Linked DNA regions of Homo sapiens. The protein of the gene in region 1 interacts with the protein of each later gene in a biochemical or structural test. Each region holds a gene or a part of one and is shown in the gene's direction. Other genes may lie near its edges. The genes, in order: MAGEA11, PCF11, EGLN1 and SUV39H2.

The links.
Region 2: the proteins of MAGEA11 (region 1) and PCF11 form a complex in vitro, tested with the Homo sapiens proteins (2 studies listed by BioGRID, with this or other methods).
Region 3: the proteins of MAGEA11 (region 1) and EGLN1 form a complex in vitro, tested with the Homo sapiens proteins (one study listed by BioGRID).
Region 4: the proteins of MAGEA11 (region 1) and SUV39H2 form a complex in vitro, tested with the Homo sapiens proteins (one study listed by BioGRID).

Annotation. Positions count from the first base shown.
Region 1 is NC_000023.11:149,715,050-149,717,797, forward strand, and holds the end of MAGEA11 (melanoma-associated antigen 11), read left to right. Parts: intron 1-554; coding exon 555-628; intron 629-703; coding exon 704-1,727; 3' UTR 1,728-2,219; downstream 2,220-2,748. UniProt on the Homo sapiens protein: Acts as androgen receptor coregulator that increases androgen receptor activity by modulating the receptors interdomain interaction. May play a role in embryonal development and tumor transformation or aspects of tumor progression.
Region 2 is NC_000011.10:83,160,117-83,167,155, forward strand, and holds part of PCF11 (pre-mRNA cleavage complex 2 protein Pcf11), read left to right. Parts: intron 1-1,210; coding exon 1,211-1,336; intron 1,337-3,562; coding exon 3,563-3,751; intron 3,752-4,090; coding exon 4,091-4,285; intron 4,286-5,483; coding exon 5,484-6,598; intron 6,599-7,008; coding exon 7,009-7,039. UniProt on the Homo sapiens protein: Component of pre-mRNA cleavage complex II, which promotes transcription termination by RNA polymerase II.
Region 3 is NC_000001.11:231,363,254-231,370,292, reverse strand, and holds the end of EGLN1 (egl nine homolog 1), read left to right. Parts: intron 1-449; exon of another isoform or gene 450-739; intron 740-2,656; coding exon 2,657-2,724; exon of another isoform or gene 2,725-2,726; intron 2,727-3,817; coding exon 3,818-3,882; 3' UTR 3,883-6,537; downstream 6,538-7,039. UniProt on the Homo sapiens protein: Cellular oxygen sensor that catalyzes, under normoxic conditions, the post-translational formation of 4-hydroxyproline in hypoxia-inducible factor (HIF) alpha proteins.
Region 4 is NC_000010.11:14,874,401-14,881,882, forward strand, and holds the start of SUV39H2 (histone-lysine N-methyltransferase SUV39H2), read left to right. Parts: upstream 1-4,465; 5' UTR 4,466-4,488; coding exon 4,489-4,519; exon of another isoform or gene 4,520-5,133; intron 5,134-7,099; coding exon 7,100-7,245; intron 7,246-7,482. UniProt on the Homo sapiens protein: Histone methyltransferase that specifically trimethylates 'Lys-9' of histone H3 using monomethylated H3 'Lys-9' as substrate.

The DNA of each region.
Region 1 (2,748 bases):
CCTGCTGACTGTCACCATCTCTTGCTGTCCTTCCTGGGTAGCCCTGTGTACATGTGGCCAGATGTGTATCCCCACATGTCCTCTTTCATATCAGGAAAGAGCTATTGATCTGAGAGTTTCTCAGGTCAGGAGAGCTGTGTCTTCCAGGCCCTGGCAGGAGAAAGGTGAGGGCCCTGAGCACAGAGGGGACCATCCACTCCAAAAAAGTGAGAAACTCACAGAGTTTGGCCCACCTTTCTGACAGTGCTGGGGTGCCAGGATGGGTGCTTGCAGTCTGCAGCCTGATGGCCCCATGATTCCTCTTCTAGAAGCTCCAAAAACTGAGCAGTGAGGCCTTGGTCTCAAGCAATGTCTTCAGATCTCAGAACACAGGAAGCCTAGGCAGTGCCAGTAGTCAAGATGAGATGTTCACCCTTAATCTACAAATGGCCCCACCTGCCCCAGTACAGAAAGGGACCCCCAGCTTGCAACCTCACCTGCCCTACCTCAGTCCTGGAGCCTCCTGCTCTGATGTCCAGCTGCATCTTGAGCAGCCTTCTCACTTCCTTTTTCAGGTTTTTAGAGAACAGGCCAACCTGGAGGACAGGAGTCCCAGGAGAACCCAGAGGATCACTGGAGGAGAACAAGTGTAAGTAGGCCTTTGTTAGATTCTCCATGGTTCATATCTCATCTGAGTCTGTTCTCACGCTCCCTCTCTCCCCAGGCTGTGGGGCCCCATCACCCAGATATTTCCCACAGTTCGGCCTGCTGACCTAACCAGAGTCATCATGCCTCTTGAGCAAAGAAGTCAGCACTGCAAGCCTGAGGAAGGCCTTCAGGCCCAAGAAGAAGACCTGGGCCTGGTGGGTGCACAGGCTCTCCAAGCTGAGGAGCAGGAGGCTGCCTTCTTCTCCTCTACTCTGAATGTGGGCACTCTAGAGGAGTTGCCTGCTGCTGAGTCACCAAGTCCTCCCCAGAGTCCTCAGGAAGAGTCCTTCTCTCCCACTGCCATGGATGCCATCTTTGGGAGCCTATCTGATGAGGGCTCTGGCAGCCAAGAAAAGGAGGGGCCAAGTACCTCGCCTGACCTGATAGACCCTGAGTCCTTTTCCCAAGATATACTACATGACAAGATAATTGATTTGGTTCATTTATTGCTCCGCAAGTATCGAGTCAAGGGGCTGATCACAAAGGCAGAAATGCTGGGGAGTGTCATCAAAAATTATGAGGACTACTTTCCTGAGATATTTAGGGAAGCCTCTGTATGCATGCAACTGCTCTTTGGCATTGATGTGAAGGAAGTGGACCCCACTAGCCACTCCTATGTCCTTGTCACCTCCCTCAACCTCTCTTATGATGGCATACAGTGTAATGAGCAGAGCATGCCCAAGTCTGGCCTCCTGATAATAGTCCTGGGTGTAATCTTCATGGAGGGGAACTGCATCCCTGAAGAGGTTATGTGGGAAGTCCTGAGCATTATGGGGGTGTATGCTGGAAGGGAGCACTTCCTCTTTGGGGAGCCCAAGAGGCTCCTTACCCAAAATTGGGTGCAGGAAAAGTACCTGGTGTACCGGCAGGTGCCCGGCACTGATCCTGCATGCTATGAGTTCCTGTGGGGTCCAAGGGCCCACGCTGAGACCAGCAAGATGAAAGTTCTTGAGTACATAGCCAATGCCAATGGGAGGGATCCCACTTCTTACCCATCCCTGTATGAAGATGCTTTGAGAGAGGAGGGAGAGGGAGTCTGAGCATGAGATGCAACCAGGGCCAGCGGGCAGGGAAATGGGCCAATGCATGCTTCAGGGCCACACCCAGCAGTTTCCCTGTCCTGTGTGAAATCAGGCCCATTCTTCCCTCTGTGTTTGATGAGAGAAGTCAGTGTTCTCAGTAGTAGAAGGCACAGTGAATGGAAGGGAACACATTGTATACTGCCTTTAGGTTTCTCTTCCATCGGGTGACTTGGAGATTTCTTTTTGTTTCCCTTTGGTAATTTTCAAATATTGTTCCTGTAATAAAAGTTTTAGTTAGCTTCAACATCTAAGTGTATGGATGATACTGACCACACATGTTGTTTTGCTTATCCATTTCAAGTGCAAGTGTTTGCCATTTTGTAAAACATTTTGGGAAATCTTCCATCTTGCTGTGATTTGCAATAGGTATTTTCTTGGAGAATGTAAGAACTTAACAATAAAGCTGAACTGGTGTTGTGAAACAGAGAAATAAAAGGAGAAGGTCATTAATTCTTGTCTTCTTATCCATATTAATCTGTTGTTCTATGAAAGTACACACCCATACACACATGTACACCCCCCTCCCCCCACATACATATTCACCAAGGAAATGCAGTTTCCTACTGAGTTGCAGATTCTCTGAGATGTCCTGGACAATAAAAAATATTCCAAAGTAGAGAGTGGTAGCACCTGGGGTCACAGTAATACTAGAAATAGCTGTCAATCATTAAATATCCAGTACATGCCAGGCATCATCCCAGGTGTTTTAATACATTTTATACATTACAACAGTCCTAAAAAAATGGTCTATCAAACCCATTTTCTGGATGAACCTGAGTCTCATGGTGCTTGGTAACTTTCCCAAGATCATATCACTGGTAAACCACAAGGTTGGCCTGAATTCATCTAGAGCCCATTCTATTCTCACTCTTTGCAGCCTGAAGTACACCTCTGTCCCTTAATTCATTTGTTTTCTCAGTACTGCATAATGTCTCTCAAGTGGCCAAAAGAAGGACACTGTGGACGTGGTACTGAAAGC
Region 2 (7,039 bases), on another chromosome or scaffold:
CCCTTAGCCAACTTTTGGTTGTAAAGGTGTTATCAGAAGCAAGAGCATTTCCACACACTTGTATGGGCAATTGGTTTTATTATATATGATGGCATTGTGTACTCCAGAACTGTGAGCCTACCCTAGCTTCAGGCAGCTATGGGTAAGTGTTACTTAGGGTTAAGATTCCTATACACGTGGGGTGGGTAAATGGGGATAACCTAAGTTTTTTTTTTTTTTTTTTTTTTGTCTTTTTTTTTTATTTTAAATCATGGGTGCTCCTTTGGAGTCAGAGTTAAAACTATTATGGTGTGTCTTAATGCTCCTCAACAAGTCTGTGAACCTGCTGATGCTTTCTGGAAGCTTGCTGTGCCTTCTAAAAGCCAGTGGTGGGTAGGCATTGCAGTTGAACTGGGGCAACATTTCTTTACTTTGGAAAGGGCCACCTGTATCAGCATCACCACACTGGCTCTGCACAAATTTATAACCCCTGGTTTGTGCATGTCAGAGGAAAATATCTCGGCGGAGAGTCCAGGCTGTGAAGAAAATCTTCAGGACAAATCCTGGTTTCCAGAGTCAAGTTCAACCTGATTTACATGATTCAGCGGCTGCTCCATCCAGTTTTTCTTGTCTGAGTAACAAACTTGCAACTTCCTGCATGTTCGTGTGCAAGTTTCAGTGTTTTGCCATTGACTTCCTAGGTGAAGTGTTTTTAATTTTTGTTCATTTGGATTATAGAGAAGTAATCCTAATGATTTTACAGGTAACAAAAGCTTCATAGACTTGAACATATAAAATATGCCCATGGAAATTAGTTTCTACAAGAGGTCTAAAAACTGCTTTGAGTGTAGGCACACCGTTGTAAGTTAATATGGGTCACAAAACTGACACTTGGATTATATAAAGTAATTTTCCCTCGCCTCCTCCTTATTTTTGTCACTTAAAACACAGGTCTTTTTACCACATGAACTTGAAATTTCATTGAGTGTTAAATGAGTATATTAGGGATTACAGCTGTTGTTCATCCTGGTAATTCTGAGCTTTTTTGTGCTCAACTAAGGATTGTGAGAGTTGAGAGCTTGATTGAACACTTAAGTTTCATAAAGATTACTTCAAAAATATTTAGTATCAACAAAAATAGAGGTCTGTATTGTAGGTTTAAAAACTCATTTTTAAATAATTATTTGGTGGTAATTCATTATACTAAACTTCTCAGTTTCTTTTTATTCAGGCTCCTTCCTCAGAGAAGCTTCCTGTTATGTACCTTATGGATTCTATTGTGAAAAACGTTGGAAGAGAGTATCTCACTGCCTTTACTAAAAATCTAGTTGCAACATTTATTTGTGTGTTTGAAAAGGTACATATGCATTTAGAAACATTTGCGTTTTTTTTTAAAAAATGTGTTCCTGATTAAATAAATATTTGCTTTGTGTTGGGTTTTCTTGGGTGGTGAAATGTTTTATACTTTTGGACATTTATCGTTAGTACCATTTCAAAGAAAGAGGCTGAAGTTAATGTTTTATGTTAGATTTTTAGAACAGATTCTAGGGGTTTACATTATCCATTTAAGAATAGATGGATTTGCTTTTAGAATTGTGCTTTTTAAAAAAATTGAGTGTGTTCATTTGAACATCTGTTTCATCACTTACAAACCAGGCAAAAAGATCTGAAATCGTCAAGAGTAATTAAAATTTCATTGTTTACATTTCTGGTGTTAGGATGTTGACTGTTCTCTTGGGGGGGTAAAAAGCATAATCCCTCAGTGTCTCAACCTGTGATTGGTTCCTGAAACTTGTGTGTTTTTTTGTTTTGTTTTCTGGAAATGTTTACTTTTGTTACATTGTTCAAGGTATGTTTTAGGTGAATGTTGTTGGTATGTGTGAATGGTGGACCAGTTAATTGCTGTTGGTTATTCTGGAAATACTTTTGCCCCTACCTTAGTGTTCAGAAATTAGGCTTATTTTTCATATCTAGAGATTGTAAATTTCTTCCATAACACTGTAACATGGTGGTTTGGTTAAAGCAGTATTATGTTGAGGAGGACAAGGGATTTGCTGAGGTAATTCTCTGCCTGTCAGGCTATATCTTTCACATTGAACAAAAAGGCACTTATGAGATACTTAGGTTTAAAGATTGTTTCCTAACGTCAATATTTGGTGGTAGTTATTATATTTTAGTAGATGAACACCTGTGTGTCAGTTGTCAGATTTGTAGAATTGGAATTTTTTTTGGAAGAACTATTCAGTATTAGATTTTACATGTTTATTAGAAAATAAGTAGTTGCTATTTGAGAAATGTTTTTAAGTTCTTAGAGAAAAACAGTATATGCAGAAGAAATCTGGAAAGCTCTATATCATATAGCATTAAAATGCTTGTTAATAGAATATTGTAGACATTTGCTGAATACTGCTAACCAGAGGCTGTAGTCTTAAGGAGAAGCTTAACCAACCTCTTGGTTTCGGTTTCAGTATGTTCAAATTCACTTGGGTGTTTGGTAGCATACCTTTACTGAATCTAACTGGGCATTAACATGACAGTTGATTAAAATGACCTTGTAATAAATACATTATTATCTGAAGACTTATGAATATAGTTAAGGCTTTACTGTCTATCCTAATGTTGAAAATCTAACTCAGTTTTCCCAAGTCCTAGGTTTCTTGATGGCGAATTTTCTTTCTTTTTCTTTTTTTTGTTTTGAGATGGAGTTTTGCTCTTGTTGCCCAAGCTGGAGTGCAATGGCACAATCTCGGCTCACTGCAACCTCCGCCTCCCGGATTCAAGTGATTCTCCTGCCTCAGCCTCCCGAGTAGCTGGGATTACAGGCATGAGCCATCATGCCTGGCTAATTTTGTATTTTTAGTAAAGACGGGGTTTCACCATTGTTGGTCAGGCTGGTCTTGAACTCCCTCAGGTGATCCACCTGCCTCGGCCTCTCAAAGTGTTGGAATTACAGGCGTGAGCCACCGTGCCTGGCAATGGCAAATTTTCTAAACATTTTTACGCCATCACAAACCTGAACAGAAAAGTTATTTAAAACTAAGGCTTATCAGTGGTTAAGATTTTGTGAATTTCAGTTGTTAAAGTGCTTTCCACACCACAATATCTTGTTCCTATGTACCCAACCATATAGTATTGCTGAGCATTAGTTAGTGAGATAGTTTTGCTTTAATTTTAACTTTGTACTACTATGTAAATAATTTAAAACATTTAAGCCATCAGGTAATCAATTTTTCTAGTTGTTTTATATTTTTTAGTTTTATATTTTCTAGTTGTCTTACATTTTTTTTTCCCAGAGAAAGAGTAACTTTAGGAATATTATACTAAGCTCTAAGATGTGGAAACGTTTTGTATATAGAAAGGCTCACCTGGTTGGTTGCTTGCATGAAGGCTAGGTGAAAATGGTTTTAATTACTCTGTTTTTGAAGGAGAAATGCACCTTTAATAAATTATTACTGTTGTATATACTTACCAATGGGTAGTACAGTTCTGTATGTGAAGTAGAGCAGATTTATATAACTTATATTTAATATATAAAATATTCTATAGTAACTTAACAAGCCATAGAATTGTTCTGTTGTTCTAGGTGGATGAAAATACTAGGAAAAGTTTATTTAAGTTACGTTCTACATGGGATGAAATATTCCCTTTGAAGAAACTTTATGCCCTGGATGTCAGAGTCAATTCATTAGATCCTGCTTGGCCTATTAAACCTCTACCCCCCAATGTGAATACGTCTAGCATCCATGTGAATCCTAAATTTTTAAATAAATCGGTAAGTTTTAATATGAATAGTAAGTAACATACTTTTAAGTATCACATTTTGAATTCTTCTGCAGAACTTACTGCCAGAAAGTCAAAATAGAATACTCGGTAGTGAATTGGTTCAATTTGAAAAAAAAAAAAATAGTGTGTATATGTTTGGAATTTTTATTTAGAAATATATTCACCTTGTTTAGGTATTATGTAACATTTATTTTGGGTTTTAAATTTCTGATAAGTTTTCTGTGTGATAGGAATTTGGATCATATTAAGAGTTAAGCTGATAATTTTTACTCCCTAGCTTCCGTTTTAGCTGATACGTTTTTCTTAAACAAATTGTCTTTTCTTATAGCCCGAGGAGCCTTCAACACCTGGTACAGTGGTCAGTTCCCCTAGCATCTCCACTCCTCCAATTGTTCCTGATATACAAAAGAATCTTACACAAGAACAACTAATAAGGCAGCAGTTACTGGCAAAGCAAAAACAGTTGTTAGAACTTCAGCAGAAAAAGCTGGAGCTTGAGCTAGAGCAAGCTAAGGCACAGTTGGTAAGTAAGGGAGATTGTCATTTTAAATATTTTAAACCTGTCTAACAATAGGGAAGTAATGTTTATGTTTGAATTTTATTAACATGTTACTTTTATTAATAGTGTACTCTTTTTTCACTTTTATTTTACAAATGAGTATATTTATTAGACTATACTTTTATATCTTTATTGTAAAATTCACTTGATTAAAAACTGCATAGGCCAGGCGCAGTGGATCATGCCTGTAATCCCAACACTTGGGAAGTCTGAGGTGGGAGGATCGCTTGAGTTTAGGAGTTTGAGGCCAGCCTGGGCAACATAGTGAGGCCCTACCAAAAAAAAAAAAATTAGCCAGGTGGGGTAGTGCATCCTTGTGATCCCAGCTACTCGAGAGGCTGAGTTGGAAGGATCACTTGCGGCTGCAGTGTGCTATGATTGCTTCACTGCACTCTAGCTTGAGTGACAGATCAAGACCCTGTCTCAAGAAAACCCTCCAAAAACTACAAAACTACACTATTTCCTCCAAACAGTTTTCTGTTAGATTGCTATCTTATAAAATAGCATCTTAATTTTGTTTAATCATTACATTATGTGGACTTAATATTTCAGTCCCAAGATGGTAGGCATGTTGTGGCAAATATTTTTGCATAGTCTTTAATGTTTTATGAGCTTATGCTCCATGAACAGAAATGACAAAATTAAGGAGGCCAGGAAGATTATATCTTTCTACACATAAATGACTTTATACTAAGTTATTTTGCTTAGCATCTGAGCTTATTCGACAGTGAGGTGCAGGAAGGCAGAATTTTATAAGTTCATTAATAGCACCACTTTGGGAGAAACTAAATTTTAGGACTTAGAATTTAGCTGAAATGACTCTGATTCTTGTGCAGCCGGAGTGTAGTGATTTAGCAATTTCTTAGGAGCAGTATGGCTCAGAATCCTGAACAATAAGGAAGAGAAACAATTTTTTTTCATTCTATTTAGAGATTATATTATAAAGTCTCAAAAAATACTAGTAAGAAATAATGGGCAACTTAAATCATGGACTTTTTCTTTTCATTGTAATCTCAATTTATACATTATAAGTGTACAATTTAAATGTAGTGTTGAGTAAATATATTTATTGAATAAAGCATTATCTTCTTCAGTTGTTTGCAATTTCTTGACAATCTGCATGTTCTGCAGTGTTAACATGAACATTTATTTTGTGTTTTAGGCAGTTTCTCTTAGTGTTCAGCAGGAAACATCCAATTTAGGTCCTGGATCTGCACCATCCAAATTACATGTTTCACAGATTCCCCCTATGGCAGTTAAAGCTCCTCATCAGGTTCCTGTGCAATCTGAGAAAAGCCGTCCAGGACCATCCTTACAAATTCAGGATTTAAAAGGAACTAACCGGGATCCTCGTCTGAACAGGATAAGCCAACATTCTCATGGAAAAGATCAGAGTCACAGGAAAGAATTTCTAATGAACACATTAAACCAGTCTGATACTAAGACAAGTAAAACTATACCCTCTGAAAAACTAAATTCATCCAAGCAAGAAAAAAGTAAATCAGGTGAAAAAATAACCAAGAAAGAACTTGACCAATTAGATTCTAAATCGAAATCGAAATCGAAATCACCCTCACCTTTGAAAAACAAATTATCTCACACAAAAGACTTGAAAAATCAAGAATCGGAAAGTATGAGGTTGTCTGATATGAACAAGAGAGATCCAAGATTAAAAAAACATCTTCAGGATAAGACCGATGGCAAAGATGATGATGTGAAAGAGAAGAGAAAAACTGCAGAAAAAAAGGATAAAGATGAGCACATGAAGTCATCCGAACACAGACTGGCTGGAAGTAGAAATAAAATCATAAATGGCATTGTACAAAAACAGGATACAATAACAGAAGAGTCAGAAAAACAGGGGACAAAACCAGGGAGATCGAGTACTAGAAAGCGATCAAGATCTCGATCACCCAAGTCTAGGTCACCAATTATACATTCCCCAAAGAGAAGAGATAGGCGGTCACCCAAACGAAGGCAAAGAAGTATGTCTCCAACATCGACACCTAAAGCTGGAAAGATTCGCCAATCTGGAGCTAAGCAGTCACATATGGAAGAGTTTACACCACCTTCTAGGGAAGACAGAAATGCTAAGAGAAGTACTAAACAGGATATTCGGGATCCAAGGCGAATGAAAAAGACTGAAGAGGAGCGACCACAAGAAACTACAAATCAGCATTCTACAAAGTCAGGCACTGAACCAAAGGAGAATGTAGAAAACTGGCAAAGTTCCAAGTCTGCCAAAAGATGGAAATCTGGTTGGGAAGAAAATAAAAGGTATGATGTTAACATTTTAAGTCAAGTGTAGTAGTGTATATGTTTCAAAAGATAGTGTTAATTTAAAAATTGGAAAATGTTTATTAGGTGCTATTAGTACTTTTTTTCCATCTAATTCTTACATCTCTGTGGGTTAAATACTATTATTATTTCTATTTTACAGATAAGGAAACTGAAGTTTAGAAAGGTTAACTAATCTACCTAAGGCTGCAGTCCAGGACATGCAAGAATCAGAATTCATATCTGTTTTTGCTGATTTCATATTTTGTGCTCTTAATCATTTATTTAATTACTTTTTGTGGTTACATATGCCCATTTTAACCATATCCTTTGAAAAGAATCTTTAAATATGGTCCTGAGTATTTTTTAAAAAAACATTTCAATGTAACATACTGCTTTTATGGTTTCAGCTTACAACAGGTTGATGAACATAGTAAACCT
Region 3 (7,039 bases), on another chromosome or scaffold:
ACTCTCTCCGTGCTTTGTGCATCTCTTAACTACTATCCATGCTTTGATTTTTGTAAGAGTATTTTACTTGGGAGAGAGAAAGATCAAGAAGGAAAAGGGTTTTTTAAAAGGTGGTGAGGGACAACATAGGAAAATGGATACAGAGTAGAAAAATCAGAGGTAACCAGAGAGTAGAAGTGAAGAGAAAAACAGAAGAAAGAAAAGTAGAGAACAGGTTACCATGTGTGGGAGTTAATGTTAGAAAAATGATCCTATTAGCTTTACAAATAATGAGCATCTGTTTCATTATACTTTTTCTACAAGGTATTTGCAACCTATTATATTTAGTGCTTTATTTCAAATGCTTTTTTAAAAACCATTTATCCTGACTCAATTAAAATGCTCTGGCTGTGAAAACAAGATATTGTAGACATTATCATGAAAGTAAATATTTGTAGAAAAATAGCACATTAAAAAAAAATACTTATTTTTTATTATGGAAAGGTCTTGGAACATTCTGATAGTGAGCTTCCGGCATTCATTTGCTGTATCTGGCTTAGGAGATGCTAGGGTGGCAAGAAGAGGCACAGGCTTAGATGCGCTGGGTGGAGAGTTGGCTTTAGTAATGATGGTTGACTCTAACGACTTGATTATCAGCTGTGCCTTTTTTCTTCCTGCCTTCTGAGGTGTGTTGCCTGCATCCTAATTCACGTACTGAGTAGCAAGCTAAGCAGGTTGTAGCTGGAGATTGTAAGAAATCCTGAATGGAAACCAAAGAAAGACTGTCACATCACATGATGTGCCCTTTTCAATCCCATGTCTCTTCCCAGTGGCATCCCAGTGCTGTCTCTGCCCCCTGCTGCTTCTGTAAAGATTTTCTGACACAGTAACTGCCTCATAGACCTTCCTTTTTATGAAATCCTGAGTTTGGTTTGGTTACGTCCTTTTTAGATGAATAAATAACAGATACTTGGGAGTTTATAGTAAATAAATGCCAGATGGCATGGAGGCTAAGTGCTACAGGAGTTGAGGAACGAAGGTGGTGCTACATTGGAGAGACGGGCAAGTGCGCTTTGAAGGGAGAGGCTCAGCTGGCCTAGGTGAGGAGAGGCAAGGGGTGCAGTCGTGTTAGTAAAGTTCTGGGGGAAAAGGCGTAGTTGTTCAAGTTAAGGCATGGAAAATCATGCGACGAAAAGGATTCTTGAAGTAGAATCCTATTCTGATCTTATCTAGAATGGGTGATAAGGCTGGAAAGTTAGAATGACATAAGGTAAGTTGTTGATCCAGATATTAGAATTCTGATTGCTAAGTGACTAAAAGTTTAGGGCATGGGCAAAAGATACATAAAATTATGTATCTGAGCCCTTTCCTATTTCCAAGGCCACCCAAAAGTAGAAGAAGCCACATGGTAAGAAAGGTAGTGGAACTCTGGAAAGAGCAGAGTCTGGTCTGGAAGTCAGGAGACCTCCTTAGACCTCAGCTCTGTGATTCACCAGTGGTGGGGTCTGTAAACGTCAGGCTCCCAGTTGTCCAAACTCCCAGACTCTTTACTTCAAAATACATTATGTGATTTTTCATTCTGTCATATTACTGGCTGTATGTCTGATAAATGTTGCCTTTTCCCCTGTGTCCACTGGCCACAATCCACAATATATTTGAACTAATTGCTATATTCTGCCCAGGAACTGGTGATTTGTAGCGTACTTTCACTTCCTATAGCGTTTATACATTTTCCCCATTATTTGTATCAGAAAGTATGTCTTTTGTAGTATTTAATAAACTAGAGATGCCTCACTTATTGGTGGAATGAAATATTCTAAGTCAGATTTTCAGAAAAATGAAGTTTAGACAAAGTTTAAACACAAAACACAGTATAATTGCTTTGATTAAAATCCTTAAAAATTCTTAGCATAATTTAACTGTCAAGGTTATAATTGTAAACATCCATCATTACTCTTTGCTATAATGTAGTGATGTCCCCAGAGACTGTTGAAACTGTTAGCCTGCAATGCCCTGAGTCCTTTTATCTGTTTCTTTTCTGTTCTTTTAGTACTTGTGCTATTGATAATGTGCTTTTTCTGTAACAGCCATTCTTTTACCCTTTTATTGTCTCTCTTTTTTTTTAGAGGGAGGCTCACTCTGTCACCTAGGCTGGAGTGCAGTGGCATGATCTCGGCTCACTGCAACCTCCGCCTCCCCGGGTTCAAGCGATTCTCCTGCCTCTCAGCCTCCTGAGTAGCTAGGGCTACAGGCATGTGCCACCATGCACGGCTAATTTTTTTTTTCTTTTTTTTAGTAGAGATGGGGTTTCACCCTATTGGCCAGGTTGGTCTCGAAGTCCTGACTTCATGATCCACCCACTTCGGCCTCCCGAAGTGCTGGGATTACAGGCGTGAGCCACTGTGCCCGGCCTATTGTCTCTTTCTGATCTGCAGTTCCCTTGCAAAAAATAAGTAGTTGAAATAAGTATTAAGAAAGTCACAAAAACTCATCAACTTCAGACATCAATTTTAGTCTCCCCTGGTTACTGTATAAATAAGCTGTTAAATTTATCCTTTGATATCATTCCAGTTTAGGCATAATTTTGGCATTACAAGTTTTAATATACCATTGCAGCAAAATACCACTTTTTCCCCGCAGTGTGATCATTCTTATCCTATTCTAAATTTTCTTTTAGGTACGCAATAACTGTTTGGTATTTTGATGCAGATGAGAGAGCACGAGCTAAAGTAAAATATCTAACAGGTAAACGTCATTTGGGGCCAGGATATATTGGTACAGAAATACCCTGCAATCAGGTGATGCTTTCAGGAAACTCAAGCATAGTCTTTGTTAACACCATGAATACTTACTTTTTGTTTTTTATCAGATTTCTTATTTGCCTCATTTTTTAAGAAGACATAAGTCATCTTCACTGTTATCTTTAACCAAAAAAATTGTCAAAGGATGTGGAAAATTTGAGGCAAAGAAGTCTGAGTAAATTATTCACATACAAACTGAGTTTTCTGTGATTATCCTTTTCAGTCAAAGGCCACTTAACTCTAGGTAACGGCCATATGGTTTCCTCTCATTCACTCCTTAAATTAATACCCTTTCCTTTTCAAATGGATGTGCTCTAAACAGTACTCTAGGTCTTCCATGTTAAATGTAGACATGAAGAAAATTAATACAAAGAATTATGAATTCAAATGCCAAAATCAGTAAATGACACAGACATGTAGATTCCATATCTGCTAATGGTGTACATAGGTCAGCACTCTTGTACTGAACCTGAAGATCCTTTAATTATGCCAGTTCCCCTTCTCTTCCACTTATGGACTGCCTCTCCAAGAGCAGGGGGTCTGTTTCCCATCTGATGGACCACTTACCTTCTTTTCTTTAACTCTACTTTCTATCTCCAAAAATCCACTGAGTATTCACATTACTGATTAGCTGTGTTTTCCAGAGCCATTGCTAATCGCACGTCGACCTTACATAAAAATGGAATATTCATGCATTTTCTATGTATTTTTAAAGCCATTATTTGTGGCACAAGCTCAGTGTGCTTTCAGAGACACTGAACACTCTGTTGAAGAAACTCAAATGGCTTTTAAAATAAAAAGACAAAATCATTATCTCTGTGTAGAGGATGGTTTTATCCTTGAAGGTTTACTATTTGAAACCTCATCACAATAGAATGCTGAGGGAAGTTTTTGGAAGTACAAGCGTGATAGTTCTCAGATGATGTTTGCAAAGTTGAAATATTGTCCATACTCTTAGGAATTCAGTGGAATGCAGTAGCAGAAGCTCTCTGGTGCTTAGTGAATGAATGAAAATTTTTTTTTTTTTTACCTTGCAGGTGAAAAAGGTGTGAGGGTTGAACTCAATAAACCTTCAGATTCGGTCGGTAAAGACGTCTTCTAGAGCCTTTGATCCAGCAATACCCCACTTCACCTACAATATTGTTAACTATTTGTTAACTTGTGAATACGAATAAATGGGATAAAGAAAAATAGACAACCAGTTCGCATTTTAATAAGGAAACAGAAACAACTTTTTGTGTTGCATCAAACAGAAGATTTTGACTGCTGTGACTTTGTACTGCATGATCAACTTCAAATCTGTGATTGCTTACAGGAGGAAGATAAGCTACTAATTGAAAATGGTTTTTACATCTGGATATGAAATAAGTGCCCTGTGTAGAATTTTTTTCATTCTTATATTTTGCCAGATCTGTTATCTAGCTGAGTTCATTTCATCTCTCCCTTTTTTATATCAAGTTTGAATTTGGGATAATTTTTCTATATTAGGTACAATTTATCTAAACTGAATTGAGAAAAAATTACAGTATTATTCCTCAAAATAACATCAATCTATTTTTGTAAACCTGTTCATACTATTAAATTTTGCCCTAAAAGACCTCTTAATAATGATTGTTGCCAGTGACTGATGATTAATTTTATTTTACTTAAAATAAGAAAAGGAGCACTTTAATTACAACTGAAAAATCAGATTGTTTTGTAGTCCTTCCTTACACTAATTTGAACTGTTAAAGATTGCTGCTTTTTTTTTGACATTGTCAATAACGAAACCTAATTGTAAAACAGTCACCATTTACTACCAATAACTTTTAGTTAATGTTTTACAAGGAAAAAGACACAAGAAGAGTTTAAATTTTTTTGTTTTGTTTTGTTTTTTTGAGACAGTCTTGCTCTGTTACCCAGGCTGGAGGGGAGTGGTGCATTCTTGGCTCACTGCAACCTCCGCCTCCCAGGTTCAAGCAATCCTCCCACCTCAGCCTCCCAACTAGCTGGGACTGCAGGCACACACCACCATGCCTGACTAATTTTTGTATGTTTAGTAGAGACGGGGTTTTGCCATGTTGCCTAGGCTGGGGTTTAAGTTAAATTTTTTAAAAAACTAAAGTGACTGGCACTAAGTGAACTTGAGATTATCCTCAGCTTCAAGTTCCTAAGATAAGGGCTTTCTTAAGCTTTCAGGTGTATGTATCCTCTAGATGTAGACAATAATGTCCCATTTCTAAGTCTTTTCCTTTTGCTTCTCCTTAAATTGATTGTACTTCCAAATTTGCTGTTATGTTTTTTTCCTAATACTGTGATCTATCTGATCTGCAGACAAGAACCTTGTCTCTGTTGAAGAGCATCAAGGGGAGATTATGTACACATTGAAACTGAAGTGTGGTGTTACTGACGGAATGTGCAGTAACTCCTCAGATATCTGTTAAGGCATTTCCCAGATGTGATGCCAGCCTTCTTACCTGTACTGAAAGATGCTTAGCTTAGAAAAAAACAAAACAGATGCAAAATCAGATAATTTTATTTTGTTTCATGGGTTTTCTTATTTACTTTTTAAACAAGGAAGGAATATTAGAAAATCACACAAGGCCTCACATACATGTTATTTAAAGAATGAATTGGGACGGATGTCTTAGACTTCACTTTCCTAGGCTTTTTAGCAAAACCTAAAGGGTGGTATCCATATTTTGCGTGAATTATGGGTGTAAGACCTTGCCCACTTAGGTTTTCTATCTCTGTCCTTGATCTTCTTTGCCAAAATGTGAGTATACAGAAATTTTCTGTATATTTCAACTTAAGACATTTTTAGCATCTGTATAGTTTGTATTCAATTTGAGACCTTTTCTATGGGAAGCTCAGTAATTTTTATTAAAAGATTGCCATTGCTATTCATGTAAAACATGGAAAAAAATTGTGTAGTGAAGCCAACAGTGGACTTAGGATGGGATTGAATGTTCAGTATAGTGATCTCACTTAGGAGAATTTGCAGGAGAAAGTGATAGTTTATTGTTTTTTCCTCGCCCATATTCAGTTTTGTTCTACTTCCTCCCCTTCCTTCCAGATGATAACATCACATCTCTACAGTAAGTGCCTCTGCCAGCCCAACCCAGGAGCGCAAGTTGTCTTTGCCATCTGGTCTATAGTACAGTGCGCGGCGTTAGGCCACAACTCAAAAGCATTATCTTTTTTAGGGTTAGTAGAAATTGTTTTATGTTGATGGGAGGTTTGTTTGATTGTCAAAATGTACAGCCACAGCCTTTTAATTTGGGAGCCCCTGTTGTCATTCAAATGTGTACCTCTACAGTTGTAAAAAGTATTAGATTCTACTATCTGTGGGTTGTGCTTGCCAGACAGGTCTTAAATTGTATATTTTTTGGAAAAGTTTATATACTCTCTTAGGAATCATTGTGAAAAGATCAAGAAATCAGGATGGCCATTTATTTAATATCCATTCATTTCATGTTAGTGGGACTATTAACTTGTCACCAAGCAGGACTCTATTTCAAACAAAATTTAAAACTGTTTGTGGCCTATATGTGTTTAATCCTGGTTAAAGATAAAGCTTCATAATGCTGTTTTTATTCAACACATTAACCAGCTGTAAAACACAGACCTTTATCAAGAGTAGGCAAAGATTTTCAGGATTCATATACAGATAGACTATAAAGTCATGTAATTTGAAAAGCAGTGTTTCATTATGAAAGAGCTCTCAAGTTGCTTGTAAAGCTAATCTAATTAAAAAGATGTATAAATGTTGTTGAAACATTATGGTGGTTATTTCCAGCTGTCTTTTTTGTTTTTCAATCCTTTATCATACATTGGCTTTCCGAATGATCCCTTTCATCAGATAAAGCTTTTCTGGCTTAGTCTAGGACATTTGTTATAACTTTTTGTAAATGATAATGAAGGAAAGAGAACAGTAAACATAGGAGTTCAACAATTTTAGAAACATCCCTGGGGTCATTGGACTGTCTGTGGGATCCATGAAGTCTGTTTGGATTCTCAGCACTTGAATTCTTGCCCTTTTAGTAGGATTTTTAAAATTATTTTAACATTCATAGCTGTTGACAGATCTGTATCACCCCTCTGCTGCAAAAGGAAGTGGGGTTAGGCATTTATCTCTAATTGTCATAGATGTACCATTGTGTATATGCAAGAAGGTTTAATTTGTGTGGTCATAACTAAAATATGAGAGCTCTTATTAAGGTGAGATCAAAATACCTGTTTATATATCTGTTATTTAAAGAAAAATTTTCCACAGTGTT
Region 4 (7,482 bases), on another chromosome or scaffold:
CTAAAAGCTTATGTCAAATTATAGTTTTGCCTATTTACATCTGACATTGTCTGAAGAACAGAGCCAAATATAAAAATAGGAAGAAATACCTATGATGTGAAAGTCTTGGAACGTGTCTTAGTTTGGACTGCTATAATAAAGTACCATAGTCTGGGGGGTGGCTTGTAAACATCAGAAATGTATCATAGTTCTGGAGGCTGGAAGTCAGTTCGGGTGCTGGACCAGGCTGGAAGCGGGGCCGGGTTCTGATGAGGGCTCCCTTTTGGGTTGCCAGCTATCCTTATAACCTCACACGGAGGATAGAGGGCGAGAGAGCTCTGAAGGGTCCCTCTTGTAAGGGTGTCAATCCCATGCATGCAGCCTCCACCTTCATGATTTAATCACCTCCCAAAGGCCCCACCTCCCAATATAATCACTTTGGGGGCGAGGATTTCAACACTGGAATTTTTCAGAGATGAAAACGTTCAGTCCTTAACAGGAGGTCACAAAATATTCATCACAAACTGAAAGCTTTTATATGTATAAGAATTCTTAAAAGTATCCTAGCATAAAAGTTCTATGGGAAAAATCACAATATCTAAAATGATAATGAGTGACCATATAATACTGTTATTTGCTTTAATTCATTATCTCATTTTAAAATTTTGATCTCATCACAATTCCACGAGTAGTTGTACTATGTAGAGAGTAATATGGCCTTGGTTATTTCTGTTTTCCAGATAATAGATTCACAGCAGTTAAATAAAGTATCCAAGGTCTCACAGTGAATAAATGGTGGATTTTGAACTAACATTCAGATGCTTATTTTGTAAACTTAATTTTTCTTGACTGCTTACTATTTTAAGCACATTACATGGATTATTTCATTTAAATTCACATTCTTAATCTAGTGTTCATTCTATGATTCTTTGCCTCTCAGAAGAGAACGTTTATTTCAGTAGAAGAGGAGACACTCCAGAAATCATGTGGTCTTTGTGAAAAAAATACTGGGAAAGGGTCATGATTCTCTACTTTTCCCTTGAGGACCCTGGTGTGTGTCTCTCAGTGGCTTTTTATTTCTCTCTCCATTTATAGCCAGGATTTACCAACACCCTCAAACATTTTAGTCCCAGGAACCCTTTATAGTCTTAAAAAATAACATGTTGAGAACCCATAGAGCTTTTGTTTGTTACATATACATAAAATGTAGTTATATAACTATAGTTACCATATGGAAATTAAAACCAATTTTAAAAATTATTTCTAAGTAATAAAGTTAATTTTTTATGAGAAATAATTTTTCTAAGACAAAAAATTAGTGGCAAGGGTGGTATCTGGGGTTTTATTTTTTGTTTTTTGTCTTGAGACAGGGTCTTGCTCTGTTGCCCAGGCTGCAATGTAGTGGTTTGATCATAGCTCACTACACCCTCAAACTCCTGGGCTCAAGCGATCCTCCCACCTCAGCTTCCTGAGTAGCTGGGACCCCAGGCATGTGCCACCACGCCCAGCTAATTTTTTAGTAGGGTTGCCCTGGCTGGTCTCTAGCAATTCCTCAGCCTCCCAAAGTGCCAAGATTATACGTGCGAGCCACTTTGCCTAGCCAAAAGCAGTATTTTGTATTTTTTCAAATCTCTTTAATGTCTGGCTTAATAGGAGATAGCTATGTTCTGGTACCTGCGTCTTCGTTCAATGTGTTGCAATATTCAAATTGTGTAACCTCTAGAAAATTCCACTATGTACTCATGAGCGAAGGAAGGCAGAGAACATGTTGGTCTGAAAATAGTTTTGCGCTCATGAACCCTGTGAAGAGTCTTCGGGTCCCAATTACCATACTTTGAGAATTGCTGCTCTAGATAGTAAACACGGTGATGAATGTTGAACAGACAGGGCCTCATCTATGCGCTGGAATGGATGGGATTCAAGACACGAAACGAAACACTGGATTTACAAAATAGTGCGATGCATTCATTATGAATCAAGACCAAAGAACAAAAACCCGACAAGATAATTGCAAATTTTGATGAGTGCTTTTTAAGGATGCAAAGTAGGGCTAAAGAATGAGGTAACATGCGAGGCCTCTGTCAATAGGTGGTGTTTAAGCTGAGACCCAAGTGATCTGAAGGTAGCCATGTGAGGAGGGGAAGGAGCCTGTCCTCTTAACCGGAAAGTAATTTCCAGCTGCCTTCAGTGATTTGCTTTATCCGCTGCTCCTGTCACTAGGAAGTCAGCTCCATGAGGACTGGGTCTTTTTTCTTTCTCATCCACTGCTATATTCCCAGCACCTATCAGGTGCCTGGCACATAGGAGATGCACAGTAAAAGATTTCTGGGTAAGTGGGGCCGGGGAAAGGCCAGGAAAATGAGTAAAGGGGAGAGTGGCACCAAGTGAGGTGAGACAGGATTCCCATCACTGGAGGCCCTGCCGGCCATCTGGAGGTTTGAGTTTTATTCTGAATGCTACGAAGTTCAGAAGTGTATTTTTCCGGATATGTTCAATTTGAGATGTTTGTGCAACACCTAAGGGCATATGTCCATTACGCACTGTGGATATTCTAGCCTGGAATTCAGGCAGAGGCCAGGGCCGGAGACGATAAGTGAGGCATCTTGTGTGTCAAGATGCTATTTAAATCCATGGGAATTGGGGCAGTCACATAGGGAGAGGGCGGAAAAGAAATGCAGTCCCAGGACTACAGTCTCTTCTCTGAGGAACCCAGGTTGGACTGAGGAAAAGGAGCCAAAAAGGATTCAAGAGTGGCCAGTGAGTAGCGATGGCCGCTCCTTGGTGGGCTCTGAAAACATACAGGAGAGGTAATGAATACAGGGGCCGGTTAGGACGGGAGGCTGTATCCAAGTCTGAAGGCATAATCCTAGATAGACTAAGCCTTAAAGGGCCTGGATGCTCTTCCAGGTGACAGGGTTGGACAGGGCCTTTTATTCCTTATCTCAAGGTAATGAGATATGGAATACAAAATTTACTAAGGACTCAAATCTTAGAAACATGTCTGAGAAATGCAGTTGCATTGAAACACACACGGACTGCAGAACAGTATTTGTATTATGATGCCGTTTGTAGCTAAATAAAGTCTGGGAGCATGAGTGTGTGTGAGGAAGTGGTGTTTCCCATCGTAGAAAATGATTAAATATTTAAAAACGAGAAGTTAAAAAGAAAATCACTCCGAAAAGGCTATTTCGTTATTTTCCTATACATTTTTTTCTTCCATAGTTAAAACTATATTTCAGGGGGATTTGTTTTGGTTTTGCTGAATACTAAAAGCTTCATGAACACCTTTTTAAGACGGCTAGACAGTATTTCATAATGGAATCAAATAATTAACTATTCCTTTAATGGTCTGCGTTCATTTCCAGTATTTCAAATTTATACATACTGCTTTGAAACGTTTATGTAATTTTTTACATGAATTTTTTAAGGAGATATCAAATGGCCTTCTGCCAGTTTTCGTTATTTGCTCTAAGATTTCTGCTTTAGGTTGTTTAGAACAATCATGGATGCAGCGTCAAGAATGGGTGGGGGAGGGGGGTGGAGACCAGGTGGGAGGCCCCTGGAGTCGTCCTGCAGCTTCCTTACTAACGTGTCCTTCTCCTCCCGGCCCCCACCCGCCACCAGGCCGAGCTCAGGAGCTTGGCAACAACATGGGAGGGGAGCTCGGGTCCCCTTACAGACCTACCCAATCCCAATTTACATTAAAGTTGAGCCCAGGAGGTCTAGTCTGCAGTGAGCCGTAATCGCGCCACTGCACTCCAGCCTGGGTGACAGAGTGAGACCTCATCTCTTAAAAAATTCCAAGTCCAGCTCCCCCACCCCCGACGATTCGTAAGCCCCTTTAAGTGAGAAGCACTGATGTGGACCGGTGGTTTCCGCTGTGCCGCACATTAGGATCAGCTGGGAGCTGGATAGCACAGGCCACACCCCACACCAACCAGTCGGAATCCCGGCGACTGCCCCAAGCCAGCGGAACCTCTCCAGCCATGCCCACGTGCAGCCGCTTCCGAAGCCCGGAGCTCTAGAGGGAGCGGTGTCGGGGGGAGACTAACCATGGCCCACGGGGCTGCGGTAGCTGCGGAACCGTACCCGACAGGCAGCGTCCCCGGCTCCCTAGGTCCCCGCTGCCCGTGTCGGATCTCGCAGTGTGCGAGTGCTGCCGAAGTAAGACGTCTCCAAAGCGCAAAGTCCTGGCCGACGTCTTCCCGAGTGAAGGCGCCAAACGGGCCTGGCGAAGGGAAGGGGGCGCCGGACACTGCCGAGGATCCGGGAGCACGCGCGCTCGCCCCGCCCCGCTCCTCGCGCTTGGGGCCGGGCCTAGCTTTGGGGCGCAGGCGCGCTGGCCGCCGCGGCGGGGGGTCGGCCGCCAGTGACGTCAGGACGCCGTGCGGGTTCCGTCCCCCAACAAGCCCCGGCCCCCAAGTCCCGCGCGGGCCGGCCAGGGGCGGGGCGTCGGGCCAGCTGAGCTATCCCGTCAGACCGCGCCAGTTTGAATGAAAGCTCTACAAGATGGCGGCGGTCGGGGCCGAGGCGCGAGGAGGTGAGGCTGGAGCGCGGCCCCCTCGCCTTCCCTGTTCCCAGGCAAGCTCCCAAGGCCCGGGCGGCGGGGCCGTCCCGCGGGCCAGCCAGATGGCGACGTGGCGGTTCCCCGCCCGCCGCGACCCCAACTCCGGGACGCACGCTGCGGACGCCTATCCTCCCCCAGGCCGCTGACCCGCCTCCCTGCCCGGCCGGCTCCCGCCGCGGAGGTGGGCACTGTCCGAGCCTGGGGCACTTCGGAAGTGGAGCGTGGCCTCTCCGCCCGCTCGGCCCGGCCCCCTCCGCGTCTCCCGTGGCGGCCTCGGGCTTCGAGGCCGCTCCCCGGCAGTCCCCGGTTGGAGGTCCGGGGGGCACGGCTGCGACTGGCTCCTTTGTGGTGGTTCGAGCGCGGCGTGCGGCATGCGCCCGGGCCTTTGAAGTGGGAGGCGGGAAGCGACGCCCGCCGGCGTGAACATGACCTTAATATCAGAGGGGGAGAGTAAATCGGGGCGCCTGTGTGCTAAGAAAGGGGATAAGCGAGGAATCCCCCCCAAGGCGGACACGCTAGGAGGTTGAGTGCCTCGTTGGAGAATCGCCCAGAAAGTGGGTATTTGAGGTTGCAGCCTCTGGCTTACGGTAACTCTTTCACCCACCGGGAGCTTGGTGTTATTTCTGTGGACGCTGGGGAATTGGGCACCGGGGAACTGGGCACCGAGCGCGCGTGGGTGTGGGCGTCGGGGGGTGTTGGTGTCGCGCACGCTTTGAGAGCCTGGAACTTTTCCGTGCGTTCCGGAATGTAAAGGTGTTTTCAAGCTCGTCTCCTCTCCGCTGGGATTATGACCTCATTATCCCTGAATTTTTCTCCTTGGAGAATGTCAGGGGTTACTGTGAACCAGCGGAAGGTGTTTGTGGTGGTCATGAACTATTTAATTTTGTCAGTGAAATCTTTTTCTGCATTACTGGAGACTGTCGAGAGATTGTCTTTCTTTTTTTAACCACGTGTTTGCAGTTTTTCATGTTCACTTTTTTTTTTTTTTTAATTTTCAAAGAGCATTTCCTTTGCGGGTTGTGTTTTGAATCCTCAACTAGATAAAAATGTTTAGGAAAAGCACACAAACACACCTTGAGTAGATAAGAGGAACCTCCTTTATACGTGATTCCCTTAATGAGGTCAGCTTAACACAAAACGTTCTCTAGTTTTTGTAGATGGAAGGGACTTAGGGGGTCATTTCTTTCCCATCACTGTCCTACCCCCAAACGACCACTACAAAGCCAATCAGCCTCTTCCCCCACGTTTTCTGGAGGAAAATACCTTTGTCTTTACTGCTTTAGGATGGAATCGTTTGCAGCCAGTGAGATGGTAGAAATTATGCTTAAGGGTTTCTGACAATGAAGTTTCTGTGTGAGGTGGGGAGGATGAGGAAAGGGGCCGGAAAAGTTATTGCCACTAACAAGTGTTCTCCCTTCCCTGAAATTACCTCAAAACGCAAAAGGTGATCGCAACTACCTTGGAGAGCTACCAAGTAAAGCTTGAGTTTACTGATAGATTTTGTTTGGTAACACCAGTTTTCTCCATTTTTTTCCAGTGAATCTGACAGCCAAAAAGATTGAGACCTCACTAAAGTCACATAGCTCGGTGACCGAGCGATGGGTAGTGCAGAGGACTTTTGATTTTGTCAAGTGCTTACCATGACACTAGCCCTAACAACAAGTTTGTTCCATTTTCCTAAACGTGTTAATTTACACTTTAAATTCAGTGTGGTAACATGCTGCTTACAGAAATTTGAGGGTGAAATCTTCTGGAACGCAATTAGTTTCTGGTTTCTGGAGGGTTGATGATGAGTATGTCTAATTTTCTTTGAGTTTAGTACATGGCTTATGTAAATTGAACACCGTTTTAAAAGTTTGGCTTTAAAAACAGTACAGTCCATAAGTATTACAAAATATCGATATACTCCATTTTTTTAATAACTGGAGTTTATTCACCTTGGTGATAATATATTGCAGTATGGGTAGAATAATAAGTGGAATTAAAGCTTCATGCAACATATCAAAGAGAAAACTAACATATAATGAGTTTGTAACCGTAGAAATATATTTTAATTAGATTTCAGTTCGTTTTGTCCAGTTAAAAAAAATGAAAGTTACGTGTTAACAAATTATAAGATTGTTTTAAAGTATATTTTAGATATGTTTTTAAGAATAAGTGTCCTAGAGATTTACATTTTATTAAAATAGTGATTGTAGTCTATGTAGAATACAATGAAAGTGAAAAACATTATCTCTGTTGACCTGCATCTGTATATAATCTTAAAAAAGCTTACAGACATGAAACATTTTCAAGTGACTTAATGGAAATTAACTGATGTCAGTTAAACGTAGTGGAATAGAAATCCATGAGAAAATCCAAGAACACCAATTTAACAAAATAGTTCCTTAATGTTTAACTTTTTCTTGAAGACATGTAACTGGTTTCTTGTCATAGGAATTTTTAGTCTAAAATTGCCAGTTGAAAGATGGGGAATAGAGGTTTTAAGTTTCTCTTTTTTGTTTTAATTGAATAGCTATTTCATTAGTAAAGAATTCTATTTTCTTATTGTAGCTTGGTGTGTGCCTTGCCTAGTTTCACTTGATACTCTTCAGGAATTATGTAGAAAAGAAAAGCTCACATGTAAATCGATTGGAATCACCAAAAGGAATCTAAACAATTATGAGGTGGAATACTTGTGTGACTACAAGGTAGTAAAGGTAAGGCAAATATCTAGCCCCTTACAAGAGACCTAATCAGACTTCAGTATTTCGTATTTCTGTAACATAAAAAGAACATTAAAAGAAAAGCTCTTCTTAATGTTTAAAATTCTAAGGCATGATAAATTTATATGTCCTATCATCTGTGTTGCCAAATAGCATTGAGAGGATTTTGAAGCATAAAGTGTTCTTGCATTAGAATATTTTCAGGTGCTCATATCCCTCTACATCCAACTC